2 separate regions of the Homo sapiens genome follow, and region 2 is linked to region 1. Evidence: fine-mapped expression QTL. A gene starts in region 1. The other region holds a variant in brackets. All regions are shown on one strand. Distances are from middle to middle. Region 1 holds the start of TNFSF13 (TNF superfamily member 13). Region 2 holds the start of MPDU1 (mannose-P-dolichol utilization defect 1).

Region 1 (13,431 bases):
GCACAGCCGAGGCTGCAGGTGTGTGCAGCTGTGCCAGCCGTACTCGAGGTGTGTGCAGGGTGTGTGTGAACACAGTGCGTGCATGGGTGCGTGTCTGCAGGGGTGTGTGTGCGTGGTGACAACTCTGTGTGAGGGGTTTGTGCTGGGGTTGTGCCACCTGAGTCTGAGGTGTTTATTGGCTGGGGGTGACGTGGTTGTATAAGATATGTGAGTCTGCGTGGAAGAGGGGTGCGGTTGTGTACAGGGTGTGTATCCTCTGTGCGTGGTGACTGGGTGCGGGCATGTGTGCAATGTGCCAATTGAATGCAGGGTCTGCGTTGGTTGTGTGTGTGGGTGGGAAAGTGTAGCTGGTCTAGAGGAAAGGGTGAGGACTGGGGCCTGACTCCCAGCTTCACCTTTGCCCGGGGCCCCAGCTGTAGTTGGCTGAGGGGCTTAATCTGTCCCTGACTTCTGTGTCTATTGCTGGCTGGTGGCTCTCCTGACAGGCCCCGTATGTCTCACTTTATATCTCTGGGAGTCTGTGGTTGAACCCTGCCCTAATTCCCCTAGGAACTGAATCCCCAGACAGAAGAAAGCCAGGATCCTGCGCCTTTCCTGAACCGACTAGTTCGGCCTCGCAGAAGTGGTGAGCATCCCTCTATCCCAACCTCAGGAAGCGGGCAGAGCAAAAACCATTATCCACAGGGAGAAACTGAGGCACGGAGGGTGAAAGGAGTTCAGAGTCATGCAGCTAACCAGCCAAGACTCAAACCTAGGGATTCTCGCCCTCCTCTGAAGCTCCTTCTGTCATATGGATGTGCTCCTTCAGACCCTACCCCAAACAGGAAGGCAGGGTGGCCATGAGTTAGAAGAACTACTGGGATCCTGATGGAGACTAGGCCTGGCAGTCAGAGGCCTGGGCCCCGGTAGGCAAAGAGACTTAGGAATGGGATGATGGGGTGGCCGGATGACCACGTGTCCAAGTCGGCATGCAGTTGTCCTGGCCCCCACCTGTTATCTCGGTGTGATTAATAGCAGCTTCCCGTTTTGCTCTCAGCAGTATCCCAGTGTGGATGACAAATTATAGTCACTCTACTTACTGAGGAAGATGAGGCCTGAGATTCTAAGGCCAGGAGTCTGGACAAGAATAAGGATGCCAGGGTTCCTGAGAGGGGAATGGGGCTGGGAGAGTTGCTCTGGGACCCCCACTAGGGCCCGCTTTGCTCATCTGTCTTTCCTTGATCCTCAGCACCTAAAGGCCGGAAAACACGGGCTCGAAGAGCGATCGCAGCCCATTATGAAGGTGGGTGATGGGTGAGCCATACCCAGGAGGAGAGGGGCAGGTGGCAGAGGGTCAGGGCAGGTCTCACCAGCCTTTTCCTGTACTTTACAGTTCATCCACGACCTGGACAGGACGGAGCGCAGGCAGGTGAGACCCCATCCCCCGACACAGCACTGGCCTCCTGGGAAAAGGGCCCTTGAAAACCTTTGACCTCCCACTCCCTTCCCGGCCATCAGTCTCAGAACCACAGAAGCCAGTTCATGAAGGTCTTGGTTCTCTCTGTGACCCAGGCGTGGGACCCCATGAAAGACCCCTACTCTTCCCCAGAACTCTGCCCAGTTCCCCCAGCAAATCACTGTCCCAGCTCTCTCCTTCAGCCCTCATTCTTCTCCAAGAAGCACTTTTCATTCTTTTTTCTTCTGTCTCCTCCATATTCCACGTTCTGATGATCTTTTTCTCTAAATGCTGCTAGTGTCTGCTCATCTTTTCCATTTCTACCCCACCCTCTACCTCAGCACCGTGACCTCAGAACCTCAAATCCAGCCTCTTGCTGCTTCCCCACTCCACACCCTCCCTACCCCTCCACTCCATCTGACCTGTGCTGCCATGCTGAGCCCCTAAACTTCACTTTTCTTGTGGTATTGGCTCTCTACATGGCTTCCAGTCTCTTCGTGGTCTGGTCTCAACCTAATTTCCCTGCACTCTTATGCTGTCTTCATGTTTGCTGCGCTGACACCCCTGCTCCCGGTGTGCCTCTTCTGGACTTTGCACATACCATCCCCCTCACCAGAATGTCTTTCCACTGTGAGAGGCAGGGAGGCATGAGGAGTGCTCAGCCGAGGGGTTCACAGCAGAGATGGTGAGAAGTGGATGGGTTCAGCCTGTGTCCTGAAGATATTACTGACTTATGGGTTGGAGGTGAAGAATAAAAGAAAGGGAGGAATCACAGATGACTTCTAGATTTTTTATTTTTTTTAAGACAGTCTCGCTCTGTCACCCAGGCTGGAGTGCAGTGGTGCAATCTCGGCTTACTGCAACCTCTGCCTCCCAGGTTCAAGAGATTCCCGTCTCAGCCTTCCAAGTAGCTGGGATTACAGGCGTGTGCCACCACGCCTGGCTAATTTTTGTATTTTTAGTAGAGATGGGGTTTTGCCATGTTTTCCAGGCTGGTCTCAAACTCTTGACCTCCAGTGATCTGCCCGCCTCGGCCTACCAAAGTGCTGGGATTACAGGCATGAGCCACTGCACCCAGCCAGCTTCTAGATTTTTAACTTGGGTATCTCTGGGAAGAATGATGCCATTTCCTAAGAAGGGATTGACCAAGGAATAAATAGGTTGGGAAGTATGTAAGATAATTATTAACGTTGAGAAGTCTAAAATAAACAAGCGGATAAATGACAATAAAGTAAATTCCAGAAATGGATGGCTGGACATTGTCGACTAGCTTAGGCTAGGTCAGGACGGATAAAGCCAGGAGTCATGGCCATATGGATGGCTTTTTTTTTTTTTTTTTTGAGACAGAGTCTCGCTCTGTCACCCAGGCTGGAGTGCAGTGGTTCGATCTTGGCTCACTGCAACATCTGCCTCCTGGGTCCAAGCGATTCTCCTGTCTCAGCCTCCCAAGTAGCTGAGATTATAGGCGGGTGCCACCACACCCAGCTCATTTTTGTATTTTTTAGTAGAGACAGGGTTTCACCGTGTTGGCCAGGCTGGTCTTGAACTCCTGATCTCAGGTGATCCGCCAGCCTCAGCCTCCCAAAGTGCTGGGATTACAGGTGTGAGCCCTTGTGCCCGGCCTATCGATGGCATTTAAAGCCACAGGATTGGGTGAGACGCCAGGAGAAAGAAGGGCCCCACGAATGAAGCCCTGAGACTCTTGGGCATCTTGAAGTGGAGCTGAGGGGAAAACCAGCAGAGACTGAAAAGAAGCTGGAGAGAGAGGAAGAAACCCAGGGAGGGTGGCATCCTGGATTCGGAGAAACCACTGTTTCAAGGAGGATGTGGCTGTCTGTGTTGAATGCAGCTGAGAGATCACATGAAATGAGAACAGAGAAATGATGGCTGGGTTTGGTAACGTGAAAGTCCTGCTGACCTTAAAGAGGGTGGTTTCAGTGGCATAGTTAGAACAGGAAGGCAGTGTGCATTGGGTTGAGAAGAAAATGAGAAATAAGGAACTGGAGGCAGGGACAACCTTTTTTTTTTTTTTTTTTTTTTTTTTTTTTTTTTTTTTTGTGACAGAGTTTCACTCTTGTCACCCAGGCTGGATCCAGTGCAATGGCACGATCTCGGCTGACCGTAACCTCCACCTCCCGGGTTCAAGCAATTCTCCTGCCTCAGCCTCCCCAGTAGCTGAGATTACAGGCATGCGCCACCACGCCTGGCTAATTTTGTATTTTTAGTAGAGACAGGGTTTCTCCATGTTGGTCAGGCTGGTCTCAAACTCCCGACCTCAGGTGTTCCACCCGCTTCGGCCTCCCAAAGTGCTGGGATTACAAGCATGAGCCACTGCACCCGGCCTAGGACAACCCTTTTTAGAAGTTTCTCTGTAACAAGGAGCAGAGAAATAGGCCAGTAGGTGGAGGGGTGTGTGGACCAAGGAAAAGTTTAGTTCTGTGAACAATACTATTTTCATCTGATCTAACATGTACTGAGGGCTTTCTTGAGATAGGCACTGTGTCTGGCACTTGTGTTTGGTCTTATCTAATCCTCACAACAGCCCTAAAAGGAAGATACTCTAATTACCTCCATTTTACAGATGGAGGTTACACAACTTGTCTGAGGCCATGAGATACTAAGTGGTGGAGCCAAGATTTGAACCCAGCTAGAATGTGCCTGTGTACTGGACATGGTCTGCATGAAAGGCGAGGTGGCTGGTGCAGGGGTGAGGGGTCCATGCAGGGGCCACATCCAAAAAGGGGAGAGGGAAGTTTCCAGAAAGAAGAGAGGACACATCTCCCACCATTACCAGAGGGTCAAAGGAGAACAAGAGACCAGGTGGGTTTGTAGATTTGCTGGGGGGAGATGAGGGAACCTTTGCTCGATGACTTCTAGGTCCTCTGGACAACTAGGGAGATGGAGACAGGAGATTTGAGGAGAAATGGTACAAAATCTCAACTTGCTGATTATGAAAGCAAGCTTCGTGGGGGAATGTAAGATTGCCAGGCAGGACGGAATGTCCAGGTGAGGTTTGTGGCTGGAGACAAGTGATATACCAGGCAAGCCCTCCGTGCTCCTGGGCACACCATGCCCTTAGGCTACAAGCAGCCTTTGCTTAGGCTGGCTTCGTAGCTAGGAATGCCCTCTCTTCTCTGCCCTCCCTACTCTTCATGCCCAGATCAGCCTTCCTCCCCTCTGTATAGACCACTTATTTTGGCAATTATCCAGACATTCATTCATTCATTGACTCAACAGGCATTGAAGACCTACTGTTTGCTAGGGGCCAGGCTAGGTGCCCACAGCAACTAATATCCAGACTCTTTTTTTTTTTTTTTTTTTTTTTTGAGATGGAGTCTCACTCTGTCGCCCAGGCTGGAGTGTAGTGGCGCGATCTCGGCTTACTGCAAGCTCCGCCTCCTGGGTTCATGCCATTCTCCTGCCTCAGCCTCCCAAGTAGCTGGGACTACAGGCGCCCGCCACCACGCCTGGCTAATTTTTTTTTATTTTTTAGTAGAGACGGGGTTTCACCGTGTTAGCCAGGATGGTCTCGATCTCCTGACCTCGTGATCCACCCAACTCGGCCTCCCAAAGTGCTGGGATTACAGGCGTGAGCCACCGCGCCCAGCCGGTCAGACCCATTTTTTTTTTTGAGATGGAGTTTTGCTCTTGTTGCCCCAGCTGGAGTGCAGTGGCGCCATCTCGGCTCACTGCAGCCTTCTCGGGTTCAAGTGATTCTCCTGCCTCAGTCTCCCGAGTAGCTGGGACTACAGGCGCCTGCCACCACGCCTGGCTAATTTTTTTTTTATGTTTTAGTAGAGACGGGGTTTCACCGTGTTAGCCAGGAGCGTCTCGATCTCCTGACCTCGTGATCCACCCACCTTGGCCTCCCAAGGTGCTGGGATTACAGGCGTGAGCCACTGTGCCCAGCCTCAGACCAACTCTTAAGGAGTCACTGTCTAGGAGAGGAAACAAGCATATAAATTTGTAATTACAGGAACATACAAAAAAAATTAGCCAGGTTTGGTGGCACATGCCTGTAATCCCAGCTACTCAGGAGGCTGAAGCATGAGAATCACTTGAACCCGGGAGGCGGAGGCTGCAGTGAGCCGAGATTGTGCCACTGCACTCCAGCCTGGGTGACAAGAGTGAGACTCCATCTCAAAAAAAAATTTGTAATTACAGTGGAATATGACAAGAACAATAATAAAAGTGGCCAAGATACCTGGCAACACAGGGGAAGACAGACATGGCTGTGGAGTCAGGGATTCTCTCCCTGCATCGCAAGGTGCCGCTGGGCCTTGAAGCAGGAGCGTAAGACAAGACAGGCAAGGGGTCAAGAATGGTGGGTGCAAGCAGAAGCAGCCCCTGGGGCAAAAGCCCCGGGTTTGCCCAGAGCATGATGAGGCTGGGGGACTCTAAGTTCAGCGTGGCAGAAGCAGAAAGTGCTAGAGGAGCGAGATGGGGATGAGGCTGGAGACAGAAGCCAGGCCACACGGTGGCATGTGGGAACTATTCTGAGGTGAGCCATCGGAAGGAGGAAGGCGAGGCGAGGCGGGCTTACGTCTGCATCTTAGAGACTCATTCTGTGGCTTTGTGTAGGGAATAAACTGGAGGAAGCCAGAATGGAAACAGGGAATGCTGTGAAAACCAGACAGAGGCACCAGATGGGGGAGAGAGGGGAGAGAGCTATTTAGGAGGCAGGATAGATAGGAACTGGTGATCGATTAATGATGTAGGTAAAGGAGAGGGAGGCTTGAATATCCCCCTGGTGGCAAAACCAGAAGCCAAATGTGGAAAACAGACAGTAAAGCAAGAGTGGGATGAGGGGGGTCAGCTCAGTGTTGGTTGAGATGAGTTTGAGGGGCTATTGCTGTTCAGATGGTGCAGTTGGCAGGGTAAGGAAGGGAAGGAAACTTCAGGGCTGGAGACTCTGCAGAGCACAGGTTGTGGGAACCCATTGGTGGAAATAAAAATGCCCAGTGAGCGTTTTTTTTGTTTTTTTTTTTTTTTGGAGACAGAGTCTAGCTCTGTTGCCCAGGCTGGAGTGCAGTGGCATGATCTTGGTTCACTGCAACCTCCCCATCCCAGGTTCAAGTAATTCTCCTGCCTCAGCCTCCCATGTAGCTAGGATTACAGGTGCCTGCCACCATGCCCTGCTAGTTTTTGTATTTTTAGTAGAGACGGGGTTTCACCTTGTTGGCCAGGCTGGTCTCGAACTCCCGACCTCAGGTGATCCGCCCACCTTGGCCTCTCAAAATGCCGGGATGACAGGCGTGAGCCACTGCACCTGGCTGAGCATGATGTTTTCAAGGCACATCTGTGCCATAGTGTGTATCAGTACTTCACTCTTTTTATGGCCAAATAATATTCCATTATATGGATAGACATTTTGTTGATGGACAATTGGGTTTCATTTTATTATTTTTAGTTGTACTAATTCAGATAATGTATGTTTACATCCTCCATATAAAAGAAGCAAATAATATAGATATCCATGAAGTAAAACATTAAATCCCCTCACGCTTCTCCTTCAGTTCTACTCTTCTCCCCAGAAGTGACTGCAGGTGACAATCTGCCCTGAATGTCTCTGGCCATATACATTAGATTTTTTCACATAACTTCCTAGTCAACTATGGGCATCATAGGGGATGGGTCCTCCCTTGCCCGGGGTGATCTATGTGTCTTCTGGGTAAAGTGGGCGCCGAATGTTCATATGCTCAATGGATCCCTGGGGAGTGTGGGGGAGTCCTGTAGAGAGACGTTTCCTTATCTCTGAGCATCCGTGTTCAGGTGTGGACGGGACAGTGAGTGGCTGGGAGGAAGCCAGAATCAACAGCTCCAGCCCTCTGCGCTACAACCGCCAGATCGGGGAGTTTATAGTCACCCGGGCTGGGCTCTACTACCTGTACTGTCAGGTAAGCCCCATCTGGCTGCATGGGTAACGCAGTAAGAGAGTGGCGAAGGGTTTGCCAGGAGAGTGGGGGACAAGCTACAGGGCTGGGAGGGTGAGTTGGGGTTTGGGTGGGATGGGATGCCTGCGTCGCTGAGGAAATTGGAAATTGAGGCGAGGGCAGGCAGAGGCCTGGACTCGGCCTGTTGTCCCCACCCCAGGTGCACTTTGATGAGGGGAAGGCTGTCTACCTGAAGCTGGACTTGCTGGTGGATGGTGTGCTGGCCCTGCGCTGCCTGGAGGAATTCTCAGCCACTGCGGCGAGTTCCCTCGGGCCCCAGCTCCGCCTCTGCCAGGTGTCTGGGCTGTTGGCCCTGCGGCCAGGGTCCTCCCTGCGGATCCGCACCCTCCCCTGGGCCCATCTCAAGGCTGCCCCCTTCCTCACCTACTTCGGACTCTTCCAGGTTCACTGAGGGGCCCTGGTCTCCCCGCAGTCGTCCCAGGCTGCCGGCTCCCCTCGACAGCTCTCTGGGCACCCGGTCCCCTCTGCCCCACCCTCAGCCGCTCTTTGCTCCAGACCTGCCCCTCCCTCTAGAGGCTGCCTGGGCCTGTTCACGTGTTTTCCATCCCACATAAATACAGTATTCCCACTCTTATCTTACAACTCCCCCACCGCCCACTCTCCACCTCACTAGCTCCCCAATCCCTGACCCTTTGAGGCCCCCAGTGATCTCGACTCCCCCCTGGCCACAGACCCCCAGGGCATTGTGTTCACTGTACTCTGTGGGCAAGGATGGGTCCAGAAGACCCCACTTCAGGCACTAAGAGGGGCTGGACCTGGCGGCAGGAAGCCAAAGAGACTGGGCCTAGGCCAGGAGTTCCCAAATGTGAGGGGCGAGAAACAAGACAAGCTCCTCCCTTGAGAATTCCCTGTGGATTTTTAAAACAGATATTATTTTTATTATTATTGTGACAAAATGTTGATAAATGGATATTAAATAGAATAAGTCATAGTCTCTCTCTTTATTGGGGCTCAGGGGACACTCTCAGGGTAGCTGGGGGCCACGTGAAGGGGGGCGTTGCGGAGCGGCACAGCTGGAACTCCGGGATGATGTTCAGGCTTGGGGGCGGGGACCTCCATGCCTCCAGCCCCCAGGTGGGAGCAGAGGTAGGAAGGCACACTGCCCAGGAAAAAAATCAATCCTCCGCCCAAGGTACAGCAGAAGCGGCCTCCTTGGCCTAGGAGGCAGACTTCCTCCTGCGGGGAAATCCCTTCCTGGCTGGGAGGAGCAGGGGCCCTTCCTCTTGGTGGCCTCGGACATTCAGCAGGTGCTGGCACAGGCCCTGGCTGGGAGGTGGGGCGGGCAGGAGCCAGCCTGGAGGAGGGGCTGAGAGTCAGCAGGCACACGGGAACCCGGAACCCTGTGTGCTGGGGAGGAATCCCGCAGTGGCCGGGGGGCTTGAGGCCGCTGCTTTGTCTCTTCGTCCAGAGCCTTATGTAAGAGCTTTTCTCGGGAAACAGGAAGTCCTGCTTGCCAATTTCAGCACAGGGAGTAGTGCAGGCCTTATTCCAACACACCCGGCCCAGCCTTAACCCCAGAACTCAGCCAGTTTCTTGCTTCCGTGCCCCTGGTTCTCCTCCCCATCGAGCCCACCCCTCCTTTCCCACCTTCAGTCACCCCTAGTGAACTGCCCCAGCGATCTCTGCTGTGCTTGACCCCGAGGGTCTTCCACCCTCGCCCTGACCCTGGACACTGCCCAGCTTGGCCCCCCATCCTGCTCCTGGCACAATGCCCTCTAGCCAGCCAACCTTCCCTCCCCCAACCCTGGGGCCGCCCCAGGGTTCCTGCGCACTGCCTGTTCCTCCTGGGTGTCACTGGCAGCCCTGTCCTTCCTAGAGGGACTGGAACCTAATTCTCCTGAGGCTGAGGGAGGGTGGAGGGTCTCAAGGCAACGCTGGCCCCACGACGGAGTGCCAGGAGCACTAACAGTACCCTTAGCTTGCTTTCCTCCTCCCTCCTTTTTATTTTCAAGTTCCTTTTTATTTCTCCTTGCGTAACAACCTTCTTCCCTTCTGCACCACTGCCCGTACCCTTACCCGCCCCGCCACCTCCTTGCTACCCCACTCTTGAAACCACAGCTGTTGGCAGGGTCCCCAGCTCATGCCAGCCTCATCTCCTTTCTTGCTAGCCCCCAAAGGGCCTCCAGGCAACATGGGGGGCCCAGTCAGAGAGCCGGCACTCTCAGTTGCCCTCTGGTTGAGTTGGGGGGCAGCTCTGGGGGCCGTGGCTTGTGCCATGGCTCTGCTGACCCAACAAACAGAGCTGCAGAGCCTCAGGAGAGAGGTGAGCCGGCTGCAGGGGACAGGAGGCCCCTCCCAGAATGGGGAAGGGTATCCCTGGCAGAGTCTCCCGGAGCAGGTGAGTGAGGGGAGGAGGGTGTCTGGGAGAGGATGGTTAGCATGGGGGGTCTCTGGGCCTCCTGGTCTGCAAAGTTTCAAGGGGGTGCAAGAGAGGGTCTCCGGTTTGGAAGTCAGGGGCGCGGCCATTCCAGGAAAGGAAACTGTTAAAGGTTAATGCTTCTCATACCTAACAAATCCTGGAGGGCAGCCAGCACCAACACTCAGGGTGCTGGGAAAAGGTGCGTGAGAGATCTGAGGCATCTCGGGGGCAGGGGAGGGCTGGGAAGGCAGGCTGGCTGGGACCCTCGCATCTTAACCTAACCTTGACCCTCTTTCCATGAGCAGAGTTCCGATGCCCTGGAAGCCTGGGAGAATGGGGAGAGATCCCGGAAAAGGAGAGCAGTGCTCACCCAAAAACAGAAGAGTGAGGCTTCCAGGGTGCAGCAGGGGTGGGAGGTGATCAAGCAGCGTGGGGATTGTAAGCCCGAGTCAGGGTGAGGGTGGAGGCTGCCAACAGCACAACGGGGGAAAGTGGATGCGGCTGAGATTCCCTCCTTCTCTCCTCAGAGCAGCACTCTGTCCTGCACCTGGTTCCCATTAACGCCACCTCCAAGGGTGAGCACTATTTTAAATAATGGCTTTGGGGAGGGGCAATAACCAGGAACTCGGGCTGGCACTTGGGCTCAAGGGGTCCTTATAGGTGAAAGGGAAAGAACCAAAAAGCACCTGAGAGTGCCAAGAAGTCCTGACCGACACACTCTCACCTCCAGATGACTCCGATGTGACAGAGGTGATGTGGCAACCAGCTCTTAGGCGTGGGAGAGGCCTACAGGCCCAAGGATATGGTGTCCGAATCCAGGATGCTGGAGTTTATCTGCTGTATAGCCAGGTAACCCCAGCCACACTCTGAGCTTCACAGAGGGCCTCTTTGGCCCCCTACTGAGGGTTCCTGACCCCTCTATTCATACCAAACCCAGCAGACCCTTCTTTCTTCCCTCGTTAGCGCTCCTGAGGCCTCCCAGAACTGAGCCAGGCCATCCTGTTTTCTTCAACATCTCCCTTCCCTGCCAGGTCCTGTTTCAAGACGTGACTTTCACCATGGGTCAGGTGGTGTCTCGAGAAGGCCAAGGAAGGCAGGAGACTCTATTCCGATGTATAAGAAGTATGCCCTCCCACCCGGACCGGGCCTACAACAGCTGCTATAGCGCAGGTGAGAGCCGTGTGGGCAGCCGAAAGCAGGACGTCTCTGACCGGGGGTAGCAGTGCAGGGAGCTACCGCTAGGAGGGAGGTTGGAAACCTAAACAGAGGCGGGTCTGAGGAGTGAAGTGCAGAATGCCGGGTCCTTACAGGAGGCAGAGGAACGGTGGAGCTGGAGAAGGCAGGGGGAAACAGGGCATCTGGATGGCTGTGCTTCACTGCGAATCTACTTTCTCTCTTTTCTCAGGTGTCTTCCATTTACACCAAGGGGATATTCTGAGTGTCATAATTCCCCGGGCAAGGGCGAAACTTAACCTCTCTCCACATGGAACCTTCCTGGGGTTTGTGAAACTGTGATTGTGTTATAAAAAGTGGCTCCCAGCTTGGAAGACCAGGGTGGGTACATACTGGAGACAGCCAAGAGCTGAGTATATAAAGGAGAGGGAATGTGCAGGAACAGAGGCGTCTTCCTGGGTTTGGCTCCCCGTTCCTCACTTTTCCCTTTTCATTCCCACCCCCTAGACTTTGATTTTACGGATATCTTGCTTCTGTTCCCCATGGAGCTCCGAATTCTTGCGTGTGTGTAGATGAGGGGCGGGGGACGGGCGCCAGGCATTGTCCAGACCTGGTCGGGGCCCACTGGAAGCATCCAGAACAGCACCACCATCTAGCGGCCGCTCGAGGGAAGCACCCGCCGGTTGGCCGAAGTCCACGAAGCCGCCCTCTGCTAGGGAAAACCCCTGGTTCTCCATGCCACACCTCTCTCCAGGTGCCCTCTGCCTCTTCACCCCACAAGAAGCCTTATCCTACGTCCTTCTCTCCATCTATCGGACCCCAGTTTCCATCACTATCTCCAGAGATGTAGCTATTATGCGCCCGTCTACAGGGGGTGCCCGACGATGACGGTGCCTTCGCAGTCAAATTACTCTTCGGGTCCCAAGGTTTGGCTTTCACGCGCTCCATTGCCCCGGCGTGGCAGGCCATTCCAAGCCCTTCCGGGCTGGAACTGGTGTCGGAGGAGCCTCGGGTGTATCGTACGCCCTGGTGTTGGTGTTGCCTCACTCCTCTGAGCTCTTCTTTCTGATCAAGCCCTGCTTAAAGTTAAATAAAATAGAATGAATGATACCCCGGCTCCATTTCCCCCACTGCCTCGCCTCAGCCCGGTCCTCGTACGGGGATCTCCCGCCCTCCTGGCTCTCCTGTGGCGCGCCCCCCGCCGGATCAAGGTACTGGGGATGCCGCTAGGGTCAGGCCCGCGAGCGCGGAGAAGACAGAGCGCGGCGCAAAAGGGAAAGTGGCGGGGCCGCCACGCGCGGCCGGGCGGCGGATGTGCGCAGGCGCAGCCTCGCGTAGCGCTCTGGGCTGGCCAGTCCCGTGGCGCCGGCGTCCTCGGGTAGACGGGACCGCGCGCTTGGTGGCCGCGCCGGCGCTCTTCGCCGGGTGTGACGTACTAATCGTGCGCCACCGCTGCCGGTGGGCCCGGGGCTCGCGGGAGGGGAAGGAGGAGGGGGGGAGGAGTGGCGGCGGCGGCGGTGGCGCTGGTGGCGGCGGTGGCGGAGGTGGAGGTGGAGGTGGAAGCTGAAGCTGAAGCAGAGCCAGAGGCGGCGCGGCGGGGTGCTCGGCGGCGCGGCACGCGGCCCAGAAGCGTTGGAATCCTGAATTGAGACGGCTGCGCCTAAAGACAGCAGGAGTGGCGGGGCCGCCGCCGTCGCCGGAGAGATGAGCCGGGAAGCTTGAGGCCGGAGACGCCCGCCTTCGGGCCCGTCCGCCCGGCTTCCCCGCTCCCGGTGAGGACGCCCCCTCCCCTCCCCCCAGCCCTGCCTTGGCCTCTCCCATTCCTGGGCCTCGCTCCCACCGAACCGGGGCCCAGAGGCCCGCATAGGGGCTTCTTAAGGCCCGTGTGCGCCGAGCCATCCAAGCTCGTGGGACCGGACTGGTGCCGGGTTGCATTCTGGTCCCCGAGGATGAAGTAGGAGGGGGCTGGGCCGGCCTGGCTTGTGCGCTCCGTTCTGTCCCAGCGTCTTGATTCGGTTCTCTTTAAGTTTCCTTCAAAGTTCTTCCCCGTTTATCAGCCTCTGCCCCCTGAACCATATCCCTGGCATCTGCACTTGAGATGACCGCAGCCTTCCCATGCCCCCCGTTCATCCAGGGTGTTAGAGAACTGTCTCCCATTCCAGTCCAGTTTCCACGTGCAAGTTGCATTCTCCTCAAGTACCACGGTTATCATGTCCCTGAGGAAAGAAACTGCCCTTGTTGGGCCCTCAAAGGACAGCCCTGGTGGTATTAAAATAAAGACGTAGAACCTGGCAGTGCTATTGGGTTTGGCCTGGTGATCTTAGAAATAAGATCTCTGAGGCCTGCTGCTTAGCCATTTTCCCTTGTCTCTGGACTGGGGAGAGATGATGGCACAGACCCTGAAGGGCCCCTTGTGGACCGCGTTAACCGGGAAGATCTTAAGTTAGGAGTTTTGCGTTTTTTCCTCTTTTCTTTATTTGCATCTGAATCCAGAGGAGGCATGGCCAGGA
Region 2 (12,158 bases), 29 kb after region 1:
GTTACCTTTGGGCTGTTGCTTTCTTGTCACCATCTGAGTTCTCAGACGCTGGAAAGCCATGTTCTCGGCTCTGTGAATGACAATGCTGACTGGAGTGCTGCCCCTCTGTAAAGGGCTGGGTGTGGATGGTCACAAGCCCCTCACATGCCTCAGCCAAGAGGAAGTAGTACAGGGGTCAGCCCAGAGGTCCAGGGGAAAGGAGTGGAAACCGATTTCCCCACCAAGGGAGGGGCCTGTACCTCAGCTGTTCCCATAGCTACTTGCCACAACTGCCAAGCAAGTTTCGCTGAGTTTGACACATGGATCCCTGTGGATCAACTGCCCTAGGACTCCGTTTGCACCCATGTGACACTGTTGACTTTGCCCTGATGAAGCAGGGCCAACAGTCCCCTAACTTAATTACAAAAACTAATGACTAAGAGAGAGGTGGCTAGAGCTGAGGCCCCTGAGTCAGGCTGTGGGTGGGATCATCTCCAGTACAGGAAGTGAGACTTTCATTTCCTCCTTTCCAAGAGAGGGCTGAGGGAGCAGGGTTGAGCAACTGGTGCAGACAGCCTAGCTGGACTTTGGGTGAGGCGGTTCAGCCATGAGGCTGGCTGTGCTTTTCTCGGGGGCCCTGCTGGGGCTACTGGCAGGTAAGGAGGAAGGAGGCTGAGGGGAGGGGGCCCCTGGGAGGGAGCCTGCCCTGGGTTGCTAACCATCTCCTCTCTGCCAAAAGCCCAGGGGACAGGGAATGACTGTCCTCACAAAAAATCAGCTACTTTGCTGCCATCCTTCACGGTGACACCCACGGTTACAGAGAGCACTGGAACAACCAGCCACAGGACTACCAAGAGCCACAAAACCACCACTCACAGGACAACCACCACAGGCACCACCAGCCACGGACCCACGACTGCCACTCACAACCCCACCACCACCAGCCATGGAAACGTCACAGTTCATCCAACAAGCAATAGCACTGCCACCAGCCAGGGACCCTCAACTGCCACTCACAGTCCTGCCACCACTAGTCATGGAAATGCCACGGTTCATCCAACAAGCAACAGCACTGCCACCAGCCCAGGATTCACCAGTTCTGCCCACCCAGAACCACCTCCACCCTCTCCGAGTCCTAGCCCAACCTCCAAGGAGACCATTGGAGACTACACGTGGACCAATGGTTCCCAGCCCTGTGTCCACCTCCAAGCCCAGATTCAGATTCGAGTCATGTACACAACCCAGGGTGGAGGAGAGGTAAAGCTAAAACTGGGGGATGAGAGGGGAGGGAGGCAGGACTGGATATAGGCTCAGAGGGAAGAAGGAAGAGGGGACAGGGAACCTTGGCCGGCATCGCATGCAGTCTTGTGACCTTCCAGTCTTTAACTTCCGCAGGCCTGGGGCATCTCTGTACTGAACCCCAACAAAACCAAGGTCCAGGGAAGCTGTGAGGGTGCCCATCCCCACCTGCTTCTCTCATTCCCCTATGGACACCTCAGCTTTGGATTCATGCAGGTATAGCCATGACCTCAGTCTCACCCCTCACTCAGCCTCCCGGCGCCCCTCCCCTCCCAATCCCACACGCTACTCCTTCCTCTGTGGAGAGGGATACCACCTGCGCCTTCCTCTTCGCCCCACAGGACCTCCAGCAGAAGGTTGTCTACCTGAGCTACATGGCGGTGGAGTACAATGTGTCCTTCCCCCACGCAGCACGTAAGTAACCTCCTTCCCTTTCTCATTGCTACCACTAGACGCCAGGGTTCCTGAAAGGACTAAGCTGGGGCCAGGGAGGTGGATAGGATCTGACCCTTCCTCACTCCTCCAGAGTGGACATTCTCGGCTCAGAATGCATCCCTTCGAGATCTCCAAGCACCCCTGGGGCAGAGCTTCAGTTGCAGCAACTCGAGCATCATTCTTTCACCAGCTGTCCACCTCGACCTGCTCTCCCTGAGGCTCCAGGCTGCTCAGCTGCCCCACACAGGGGTCTTTGGGCAAAGTAAGACCTACCTACTCCTTCCCTCCTAGAATCCTCCCACTGCACTGAAAACCCCTTCCCCAGGCCCATAAGCCACTCATCTCTCTTCTTAACCCCCCAAATCTCGCTCTCCCAGCTTGTCATGGCTACAGGGCAGCTTTCTTTCCATCCTCTACAAGACTCTGCCAGTTTCCCCCTTTTATCACTGCTGAGTCACTGCGGTGAGCTCCTCACCAATCTCCTACTCCCCAGCATCCCCCCATTCCCTCCTCCCACCTTTATCCCAACCAGCACGTCACTGCAAATACCTACCTGCCCTATCCTTCCGCCAGGTTTCTCCTGCCCCAGTGACCGGTCCATCTTGCTGCCTCTCATCATCGGCCTGATCCTTCTTGGCCTCCTCGCCCTGGTGCTTATTGCTTTCTGCATCATCCGGAGACGCCCATCCGCCTACCAGGCCCTCTGAGCATTTGCTTCAAACCCCAGGGCACTGAGGGGGTTGGGGTGTGGTGGGGGGGTACCCTTATTTCCTCGACACGCAACTGGCTCAAAGACAATGTTATTTTCCTTCCCTTTCTTGAAGAACAAAAAGAAAGCCGGGCATGACGGCTCATGCCTGTAATCCCAGCACTTTGGGAGGCTGAGGCAGGTGGATCACTGGAGGTCAGGAGTTTGAGACCAGCCTGGCCAACATGGTGAAACCCTGTCTCTACTAAAAATACAATTAGCCAGGTGTGGCGGCGTAATCCCAGCTGGCCTGTAATCCCAGCTACTTGGGAGGCTGAGGCAGAACTGCTTGAACCCAGGAGGTGGAGGTTGCAGTGAGCCGTCATCGCGCCACTAAGCCAAGATCGCGCCACTGCACTCCAGCCTGGGCGACAGAGCCAGACTGTCTCAAATAAATAAATATGAGATAATGCAGTCGGGAGAAGGGAGGGAGAGAATTTTATTAAATGTGACGAACTGCCCCCCCCCCCCCCCCAGCAGGAGAGCAGCAAAATTTATGCAAATCTTTGACGGGGTTTTCCTTGTCCTGCCAGGATTAAAAGCCATGAGTTTCTTGTCACATGCCTTTCTATGCCTTCCATGGCTGGGTCTCAGGGAGCCGGAAGCAGCTGCTGAGGAGGGATGAAAATGTCAGTGTGTGACGATGCCTCATGGGTTCACCCCCCAAAGCCTGGCACAGCTGGTGTTGGGTCTGCCGTGCCTCCCTTCCTTCCTCCTCTTGGGGCCACTGGCTGCTCCAGTTCCCCATCCGTGGCAAGCCGGTAGAGCCATTCATCCCCGCAGCCTTCTTCCTGACCCTCGTACAGTTTCAAATGCAGCAGACAGCCAAAGCAATGAGTGGGGGGCTGTGGAACTTCATTCCCAAAGGCAGCGCCAGTGGCTCCTGAGCAATGAGAATGTCCTGTCCTGTCCACCATATTCAAGGCCAGCAGAAGAGCCCGATTAAACCCTCGCAGCACCTGGCATGCTCCTATCCCACCTACAAGGGGTTGAATCAAGAAGGAGCAGTGGGTACTCTGACCTCCACTGGGGGCTCCTGGGAACAGCATGCCCCCCACACGGGGCCACCTGCCAAGCCTAACTTCATGCCCCCAGTACTTGAGATGAGGAGTGTCACTCTCAGGACAGCCAAGGTCCAGATTCCAGAAAGGACCTCCCAGATGGCCACAGCCTGCACCAGCAGTGAGCGCCAGTCCCACCCATTACAGCTGGCTACGGCGCAATCCCTGGGAGCCAGGATGAGCAGCACCCCCCAGCCGTAGGAGCCCCAGGAGGCTTCCGGCCTCCAAGGCCCAGAGACTGCCCCACAAGGGCAGCCCTCACCTGGCAGGGCCCCAGCAGCCCCACCTCTGCCTGCAGACATCCGTGTGACCTTGTAGACTTTGGAGGGGGGCCGCCAAAGGGCTGATCCACAGCGGAATGACGCACGGGTGGGCACCGTGGGTTGGCGTCCCGGCGGTCGGTAACGAAGCACAACGCCCCCACCAGGTAGTCCAAGGTGCCCTTTCCCAAGCAGCGCTGCAGGGTCCACTCGGCCTCGCCGAAGTCTCTGCCCAGCACGTGGTGCGCCCTCGGGCCAGCGGGGAGGGGGCGAATCCCGGGACTGCCTCGCCAGGCCTCGGCTCCCCGGAGACTCTTGGGGGTCTGGGCCCCAAGGGTGATTCAGGTGCTGCCCTTCCCCGACCTGGGCTCGCCTCCCCCACCTCCTCCTCTGCTTCACTGTCCCGGGCCCAGCAGTTGCCGGCGCACTCATGCTCCGAGGCCTGAGCCAACCGGAGGCGAGACAAGCACAGGGCCCTGCGCGCAACCCGGCACCTAAGGAGGCCTGCCCGGTGCAGACTCTCCTGCTCCCACCGGCGCCCTTCCCTCTAGAGACGCTGAGAGAACGGGAGCTAGTAGCGCCCCCACCCAACGCCACCTCGGAGACTCCGGCTCCTTCTCTCTCAACTTCGAACAATACAAAGTGTGCTAGGAGAAGACAAGATGGCGCCCAGCAGGAGGAGCGGAGAAAGGCAGGGGTGTAAATCTGGCTTCCAAACTGGAAGCGTCAACAAAGGCGTGGGAGGTCTAACCGCGCAGGCGTGCAGCTTCGGCAAGCTTTACAATTCCAACAGCGCGTCCAAAACGTGGTCCCTGACTGAGACTTATTTTACGCCACTAGAGTGAGGGTGGGTAGCGTCAGAAAGAGCGGGGCACGGGGCGGGCCAGCTTCGCCGCGGGAAAAGAACGGGAGGCGGAGTGTCCGCAGCGCGCACGCGCAACGAAAGTCAATGGCGGTCTGGAGAGACTGGCGGAAGCTAGCTTTGCAATATGGCGGCCGAGGCGGACGGACCGCTTAAACGGCTGCTCGTGCCGATTCTTTTACCTGAGAAATGCTACGACCAACTTTTCGTTCAGTGGGACTTGCTTCACGGTGAGTTTTATTCAGCATCCGATCCAAGTCCTACTCGAGTGACCGTGGGCCCTTAGTCCAAGCCTTGATCGGCGACTAAGTGACGGCAGTGACTGCCGCCATGCCGAGCTGGACGGAAGTCACTTCTGAGAAGGGCGGAAGTGTCTCGGGCTCCTTAGAGGGAGGACACCATATTAGTGCCAGTGGGGAAGTCACCGGGTGGAATTACTTCTTTGTGGAGTTTGTGCTGTAGCGACAATGAAAAACGAAGAGTCAACTTTTATAAAACAAAATAAAAATTAAGTCAAATCATGCCAACCTTTATTAGATCGCTAGCAGGGTTAAACTTAATTCAAAGCCCCTGATGAATCGGGCCTTCATTGCACCCCCAAAGGCTCCGCCACCCTGATTGCTTTCTTTCCAGCCTCCAGGTTTGCTCATAGTCTGATTTCGGAATAATTTGCCTCCCTTCCTTTTTCTGATTGCGAGACAGCTCCACAAGGGTCACCGTCAGACCGTTTGGGGAGCGTCAGTCTGCCCCTGTCAGTTCATGGTACCTCTCTTGAGCTCGTGGGGCACTTTGTTTTAGCCGCATTCATGACCCGTGAGAGTCAGACTCCCACTAGACCAAGTTCCTTGAGGGGAAGGCTTCAAGGCTAGAGAAGTTGTGGATGGCCAGGGCATAAAAGCAAGCCTTGAAAGGGTAAGGTTTAGTCCCTGAGTAGGGGCCAGGGACAGTCAGAGTGTTCAAGAAAGAGTGGTATGGGGCGGGCACGGTGGCTCACGCCTGTAATCCCAGCACTTTGGGAGGCCGAAGCGGGTGGATCACCTGAGGTCAGGCGTTCGAGACCAGCCTGGCCAATAGGGCGAAACCCCGCCTCTACTAAAAATACAAAAAATTAGCCGGGCGTTGTGGCAGGCGCCTGTAATCCCAGCTACTCGGGAGGCTGAGGCAGGAGAATCGCTTAAACCCGGGAGACAGAGGTTACAGTGAGCCAAGATCGTGCCATTGCACTCCAGCCTGGGCAACAAGAGTGAAACTCCGTCTCAAAATTAAAATAAGAAAAAAAAAATGGTATGAAGACTTGTCTTTGGAGAGAGAAGACATGTGAAATGGGGCACCCATTGGCCCAGAGAAGGGAAATAAAGGATCAGAGAGCTCTTGGGCATTTCTCAGCTTTATATGGGGAAGCAATGGAGAGCCGTGGAGGTCAAGCCAAGTTTGGGTGTTAATTTATAGGGAATGGAAGATTGGATGTGGGGGGTGGTAGGCATCGGAGAAAAGCTGTTTTGGAAAGTAACAGTCTGGGGCCCGGTGCGGTAGCTCGAGCTTATAATCCCAGCACTTTAAGGAGGCTGAGGCAGGTGGATCATCTGAGGTCAGGAGTTCGAGACCAGCCTGGCCAACATGGTGAAACCCTGTCTCTACTAAAAACACAAAAATTAACCGGGCATGGTGGTGTGTGCCTGTAATTCTAGCTACTTGGGAGGCTGAGACAAGAGAATTGCTTGAACCCAAGAGGCAGAGGCTGCAGTGGGCTGAGATTGGGCCACTGCACTCCAGCCTGGGTGACAGAGCAAGACTCTGTCTCCAAAAAAAAAAAAAAGTGTGGTGGTTTGGAGCAGGAAGGACCAGGACTTTCTCACTGCCCTCCGCCTCTCCTCCCCCCAAGACAATGCAAGACCCTGGTGTGGGTAAGGGGGCTCGGGGAGAGCCCACAGGAGCTTCAAGCCCTGGCCTGGGTTTCAGACATCTCCTGTCTGCTTACCCTTTTTTCTCTCCTCAGTCCCCTGCCTCAAGATTCTCCTCAGCAAAGGCCTGGGGCTGGGCATTGTGGCTGGCTCACTTCTAGGTATGTCTCTTATCTTTCTTTCCAGCTGTTGGGTTGGGGTGGAGGTGCTGAGAGGCCATCAACTGTGTGGGTGTTCGTTCTATAGCTGTTGTGTTGCATCCCAAAGAATGGAGAGTCCTCAGTCCTACTTTTCTCATCTTTCCCCTAGTAAAGCTGCCCCAGGTGTTTAAAATCCTGGGAGCCAAGAGTGCTGAAGGGTTGAGTCTCCAGTCTGTAATGCTGGAGCTAGTGGCATTGACTGGGACCATGGTCTACAGCATCACTAACAACTTCCCATTCAGGTGAGGGGCCCACCCTTCCACCCCAAGGGTAATACCCACAACTCTAATGGGGATTAAGGTGAAGGAGGTTACAAGGCAGCAAAGTGGCCGGGCCCAGTGGCTTGCACCTGTAACCCCAGCACTTTGGGAGGCCGAGGCGGGTGGATCACCTGAGGTCAGGAGTTCGAACTGGCCAACATGGTGAAACCCCGTCTCTACTAAAAATACAAAATTAGCTGGGTGTGGTGATGGGCACCTGTAATCCCAGCTACTTGGGAGGCTGAGGCAGGAGAATCACTTGAACCTGGGAGGCAGAGGTTGCAGTGAGCCAAGATTGCGCCACTGCACTCCAGCCTGGGCAACAAGAGCGAAACTCAGTCT[TAA/T]AAAAAAAAAAAAGGGACAAGGGGCTAGGAAAGTTTTAAGCCCTTTTAGAAACCTAATCATCACCAGTGGAGGTGATCTTGAGAAGGGGTGAGCATCCCGAGAATGGCCACGATTCAGAATGAGCCAGTCCCGTGTGGGGGCTGTAGAGAAGCGTGATCAGAGCATAGTGTCCCTGGATGGATGGGCTATGGAGGCTTTCCCTGCCTCTTTCTAGGCCCGCCTTTCTTCCTCCCAACTCTTGACTCTGCAGCTCTTGGGGTGAAGCCTTATTCCTGATGCTCCAGACGATCACCATCTGCTTCCTGGTCATGCACTACAGAGGACAGACTGTGAAAGGTGCTGGGGACTTACCCAAGAGCAGGCTGTGTGGTTCCTGGGAACCCTGCTGGGAACTCAGGTCTGGGAAAGCCAAATGATGTGGAGAGATTGACAAGGACTCCTGTCTCCCCACCCCTAGGTGTCGCTTTCCTCGCTTGCTACGGCCTGGTCCTGCTGGTGCTTCTCTCACCTCTGACGCCCTTGACTGTAGTCACCCTGCTCCAGGCCTCCAATGTGCCTGCTGTGGTGGTGGGGAGGGTGGGTACCAGGAGCAAGGGACAAGATGTTGTGGGGGCAGGGTGGGGGGGAAGAGTAGAAGATCAAAGTGTGGGGGTGTTGTACTTGGGGGAGCATGGGAAGAGCTCAGGTGACAGAGCCAAAGGTCTCAACTCCTCCCCTAGCTTCTCCAGGCAGCCACCAACTACCACAACGGGCACACAGGCCAGCTCTCAGCCATCACAGTCTTCCTGCTGTTTGGGGGCTCCCTGGCCCGAATCTTCACTTCCATTCAGGTGAGTGCAACATCTTCCTTCTAGAAGGCACTAAAACCTCGTCTTACTTCTCCCAGCTAAGGGCCAAAGCTGCCCCGTGAGGAACCTTTGTCCATAAGGGAACCTTTCTTGAGCTATGCTGAAGGGTAACCCTGGCTCTGTCTCTTGCAACCAGGAAACCGGAGATCCCCTGATGGCTGGGACCTTTGTGGTCTCCTCTCTCTGCAACGGCCTCATCGCCGCCCAGCTGCTCTTCTACTGGAATGCAAAGCCTCCCCACAAGCAGAAAAAGGCGCAGTAGAGCCAGCTACTGGAGTCATTCCGTTTCCACTCATTCACCCAACCTCAGGGTTCTCCCCATCTGAGCCAGCCTGCTGGTGTGACTTACTCATCCTCCATTCCTCTGCACTTGCAGACTTTCTGAGCCAGGGTTTTCTTTTAGTGGAAACAAATGGTTGATGGATCCAGATCCTTAGAAAAGGAGAGGATGGGGGTAGAGTCTCCCAAGCCAAAATTTTGACATTTGAGTGCTTTCGTAAGCCCTGTACATGTACTATTAATTCAGTCATTCAGCCAAGCCTCCTCCTCTAGCAGCAATTTCCAGCTGTGTAACACTATCCTGGGCAAATGTTTTACCCTGTCCTCCAGCCTCCCTGCTTCCCTTCTGGCCCTGGAAGACTGAGTCTGGACGGCAGAGTGGAGGGACTGGGAGGCTGTGGCTGCCTCCCTCCCTCAGCCCGGCTGGGACTGTCTCCCGGACCCCAGTGCTGGGGTGGGGGAAGGGGGACGGAGAATGACTCAGGCAGGGCCCCAGGGTGGGGTGAGGAGGTTCCTGCTCTGGCAGGTCTAGGCGGAAGGGAGTGGAGATGGGGCTGGTTCCTGCTGCAGTGAGGGGAACAGATGGGACAATAAAGACTGGAGACTCAGTTGAATAATACAAAACTGTTTAATACTACCAAAAATATAATTGTATGTTGTGCGGCTCTCCCTGGCTATCATGGGAGGACTGCAGGCTGCCTCTGAACTGTAGTCCAACAGGAGAAAGGGTTGACAGCCTGGGGTAGGGGATGCTGCTGGATTAAAAAAGGAGGATGAGGCCCGTCCCGTGAGGTCTGCGTCCATGAGGGTTAGAGGTGGGTTAGGGGCATGGGGGCACCAGCAAGGGGAGGGTTGTATGGAGTGGGAGAGCCAGGGGGCAGGTAGTGGGTATAGGTGGGCAGCAGTTCCCCCTGGAGCCTAGGGTCACTCTGAGGGAGGGAGCACGGTGAGGGGGCTTCCAGTTTGCAGTGGGAAGAGCTGCAGAGAGAAACAAGAGGTTAGAGGGCACTTCCCTGGGTTGGAGGTGAGTCTGGCCAGTTCTGGGCAGACAGGGTAGAGCGTGCCACCCACCCAGCCCTGGCTACCCAGCCCGCTGGGCGCAGCAGGCATGGAAGCCGACCCCGGGATGGAGAGCCCGCGGCCCTGTTGGGGCACGCTCGGGAGCGGGCTTGCGTGCTGCACGGCTGTTTTCCTCTTGGGGAGTCAGGCCAGGAAAGGGCAGAATGAGCTCGGCCTCTCCTTGCCCTGGGGGCTGGGAGAGGAAGCTGGGTCACACACAGGCCAGAAGCAGGGGGGAAACGGGGCATCTAACTAGGACACAGTCGCATCCAGGGGTCAGTCACCTGACCCTACAGGGCCCACCACCTTCAGACTGAGATGGAAACGCCCTCTGGGAGAACCCTGATCCGCCCCACCCTACACAGGCCCCGGAGGTACTGGGCCTGCGCCCGCCACACCTTGGCCGCGAGTGGCCTCTGCTTGGGTGGGCTCCCGTCCTCCGGCATCCGCCCCCACCAAGGCTCCAGAAGAGGGGCGCATGGGCCTCCGTCTTCGGCCCGCTTCCCAGGCACTCACCCATAGCTGCCAGGCAGGTAGGCTGTCGAGTAGCTGGGGGGTCTGTACCCAAAGCCTCTGCTCGGTTGGGTGGTCGCGTACCCCGGCCCCCAGAGCGGGCCGCCGCTGGCCAGGTTGCCTCTTCCCTGTCCGCAGCGGGAAGGTCCGGCGCCCGAGCTCTTGGCCTTGCGCCGAGGCCGGTACTTGTAGTCGGGGTAGTCGCGCAGGTGTCGGGCGCGGAGCCGCTTGGCCTCCTCCACGAAGGGCCGCTTCTCGTCCTCGTCCAGCAGCTTCCACTGCGCGCCCAGGCGCTTGGAGATCTCGGAGTTGTGCATCTTGGGGTTCTGCTGCGCCATCTGGCGGCGCTGAGCGGAGCTCCACACCATGAACGCGTTCATCGGCCGCTTCACCTTCTCCAGGGGCAGCGTCCCGGGGGCCGCGGGGCTCCCAGCGCCCTCCCGCTCCTGGGGTCCCGAAGATGAGGAGGCAGCAGCCGTGGCAGCCGGAGGCTCCAGGCTCCAGGCCTGGTCCTGTGAGGAGCCTGGTAGCGCCATGGGTTGGGAGAAGCCTTAAGAGGGCGTCCTGAATGCCCTCCCCTCAACGTGAAGCGTCGATCCTGAAAATGGAAAGGTCTTCCCAGTCTGGAGTCGTTGCCGAGGAACTTGGGTCCTTAAAAAGTGTATTTTATCCCCAAGCCCAGAGCTTAAACCGGAGCCTTTGCTTCCAACCTGTTCGGCACACTTTGGGGAGAGTCGAATGCAAAATCCGCTGTCTGGTGCCCCGGCACTGAAGAGGTGTTCTGAGGCCTACTGACTGGGGGACCCCCGGTCCCTCTCCCCGACCCGCAGCTGCGATCAGACCGACCTTCCGTGGAGGGGGTAAACCATAAACCCCTTTGTGGTCTCCGGAGTTCCGACAGCTGCCAGGCGCGGATAGGCCAGACCTCTCCCACCTGGGCTCAGCGTTTGTGGCAGGCGGGCCAGACCTGGGAACAGCTTTTAAAGACTGACTCCGCCCCTGTCCCTCCCATAAGACTGCACCTCCTTAAGGGCGCCAACATCCTCAGCCCGTAGGTAAACCCAGGTGTCCTGTTTGTCCCAGCCCCCAACACCCTCAGGGTGCCACGCCCCCCGCCCCCCCCACCCAAGACCTGATGTCAGGCCTTCCAGCCCGTTGCTGATTGCCTCCCCTCCCTGAAGCACAGGCAATTTAAAGCCAATTCTTTCCACAATGGGATCAAACACAGGGGGATGAAGTGCCCTCAGGGCCCGAGTTGTGCTGAGAGGAGCTTGGGAGCATCCCGGACCACCACCCCAACCCCTTTCCTGGTGCCTGTTGCTCCTCAAATCCCAGAACTGCCCCTGGGGCAAGAAAGGCCGAGGAGGGAGACCATTTTTGTTTCCTGAGTCATTCCAGCAGGTGCTTGGGCCGTGATTCAACCCCTTTCCCAAGTGAGAAAACTTAAGCCCTCCCAACTCCAGTCCCTAAACCTATATTTCTCCACTGCTATTGAATTATGGCAAGTTTTAGCTTCAGTCGTCCAAGTCATGAGGGGGGAGCCAGGAAACCCAGGACAACTCCCCAAGTTAAGAGGTCTGTGATGCGCATGCCGGAGAAAAAGCCTGGAGCCAGAACAGAACACCACCAAGAAGGCCGGACCCCGGGCTCCAGAGGCTGCTGTGAGGGAACCCTGCTCCCCACTCTGCCCAACGGCCCAGCCCAAGCCCCAGGCCTCAGGTAATCGGATTAAGCAGCCTGCCTTGGCTCTCAGCTTCTACAGGAACAGCTCCAGCTCTGAGCAGCCCTGCCTAGCCTGTGCTGTGACTCAGGGTATAGGAGTGGCCCAACTCCCTCTACCAGCAAACTTGGGGGAGGGGAGAAGCAACAAGGCACAAGCCCCCCTCCTCTGAACCAGGAGGGAGAACCTGGGCCTGGGGAGTTTAGGAATGTCAGGAATTCCCAGAAGTAAGACCATCTTTGGGACAAGAGACAATGAAGAGAAGTCAGATGTGGAGGAACAGAAAACAAGAGCCAGGGGCCAGGGCAGGTCAGTCCTAGAGAAACAAATGGACCAAACTGGGGACAAAGAAGGCACAGGAGCCAGACAGCCATTTGGATTTTTTTATT

The links. PIP is the estimated chance that this variant, and not a neighbour inherited with it, causes the effect.
Region 2: its variant is fine-mapped to the expression of TNFSF13 in whole blood (INTERVAL, PIP 0.94).

Annotation. Positions count from the first base shown.
Region 1 is chr17:7,549,571-7,563,001 of GRCh38, forward strand. TNFSF13 (TNF superfamily member 13) reads left to right here and starts at 9,180. Exons shown (of 6, transcript NM_003808.4): 1 at 9,180-9,727; 2 at 10,054-10,132; 3 at 10,276-10,323; 4 at 10,479-10,597; 5 at 10,780-10,918; 6 at 11,154-12,031. The coding sequence starts at 9,470. The coding sequence ends at 11,263. TNFSF12-TNFSF13 (TNFSF12-TNFSF13 readthrough) reads left to right here. Exons shown (of 11, transcript NM_172089.4): 3 at 550-625; 4 at 1,229-1,282; 5 at 1,373-1,408; 6 at 7,208-7,332; 7 at 10,054-10,132; 8 at 10,276-10,323; 9 at 10,479-10,597; 10 at 10,780-10,918; 11 at 11,154-12,031. The coding sequence ends at 11,263. It overlaps TNFSF12 (TNF superfamily member 12), which reads left to right. Exons shown (of 7, transcript NM_003809.3): 3 at 550-625; 4 at 1,229-1,282; 5 at 1,373-1,408; 6 at 7,208-7,332; 7 at 7,529-8,311. The coding sequence ends at 7,780. It overlaps SENP3 (SUMO specific peptidase 3), which reads left to right and starts at 12,349. Exons shown (of 11, transcript NM_015670.6): 1 at 12,349-12,693. It also overlaps SENP3-EIF4A1. RefSeq lists enhancers at 5,321-5,821, 7,930-8,723, 8,309-8,368, 9,179-9,228, 11,603-11,852 and 1 more and a silencer at 12,413-12,492.
Region 2 is chr17:7,579,092-7,591,249 of GRCh38, forward strand. MPDU1 (mannose-P-dolichol utilization defect 1) reads left to right here and starts at 4,761. Exons shown (of 7, transcript NM_004870.4): 1 at 4,761-4,874; 2 at 6,641-6,706; 3 at 6,855-6,987; 4 at 7,601-7,686; 5 at 7,808-7,926; 6 at 8,070-8,180; 7 at 8,335-9,121. The coding sequence starts at 4,772. The coding sequence ends at 8,460. SOX15 (SRY-box transcription factor 15) reads right to left here and starts at 11,003. Exons shown (of 2, transcript NM_006942.2): 1 at 10,053-11,003; 2 at 9,087-9,455. The coding sequence starts at 10,585. The coding sequence ends at 9,287. It overlaps MPDU1-AS1 (MPDU1 antisense RNA 1), which reads right to left and starts at 5,001. Exons shown (of 2, transcript NR_136402.2): 1 at 4,827-5,001; 2 at 2,883-3,072. CD68 (CD68 molecule) reads left to right here and starts at 547. Exons shown (of 6, transcript NM_001251.3): 1 at 547-635; 2 at 719-1,236; 3 at 1,375-1,494; 4 at 1,620-1,692; 5 at 1,805-1,975; 6 at 2,287-3,020. The coding sequence starts at 587. The coding sequence ends at 2,420. It also overlaps FXR2. RefSeq lists enhancers at 3,585-4,458, 4,410-4,459, 4,459-5,333, 4,570-5,099, 5,334-6,206 and 3 more. The variant TAA/T (reference allele first, on the strand shown) is at 7,348.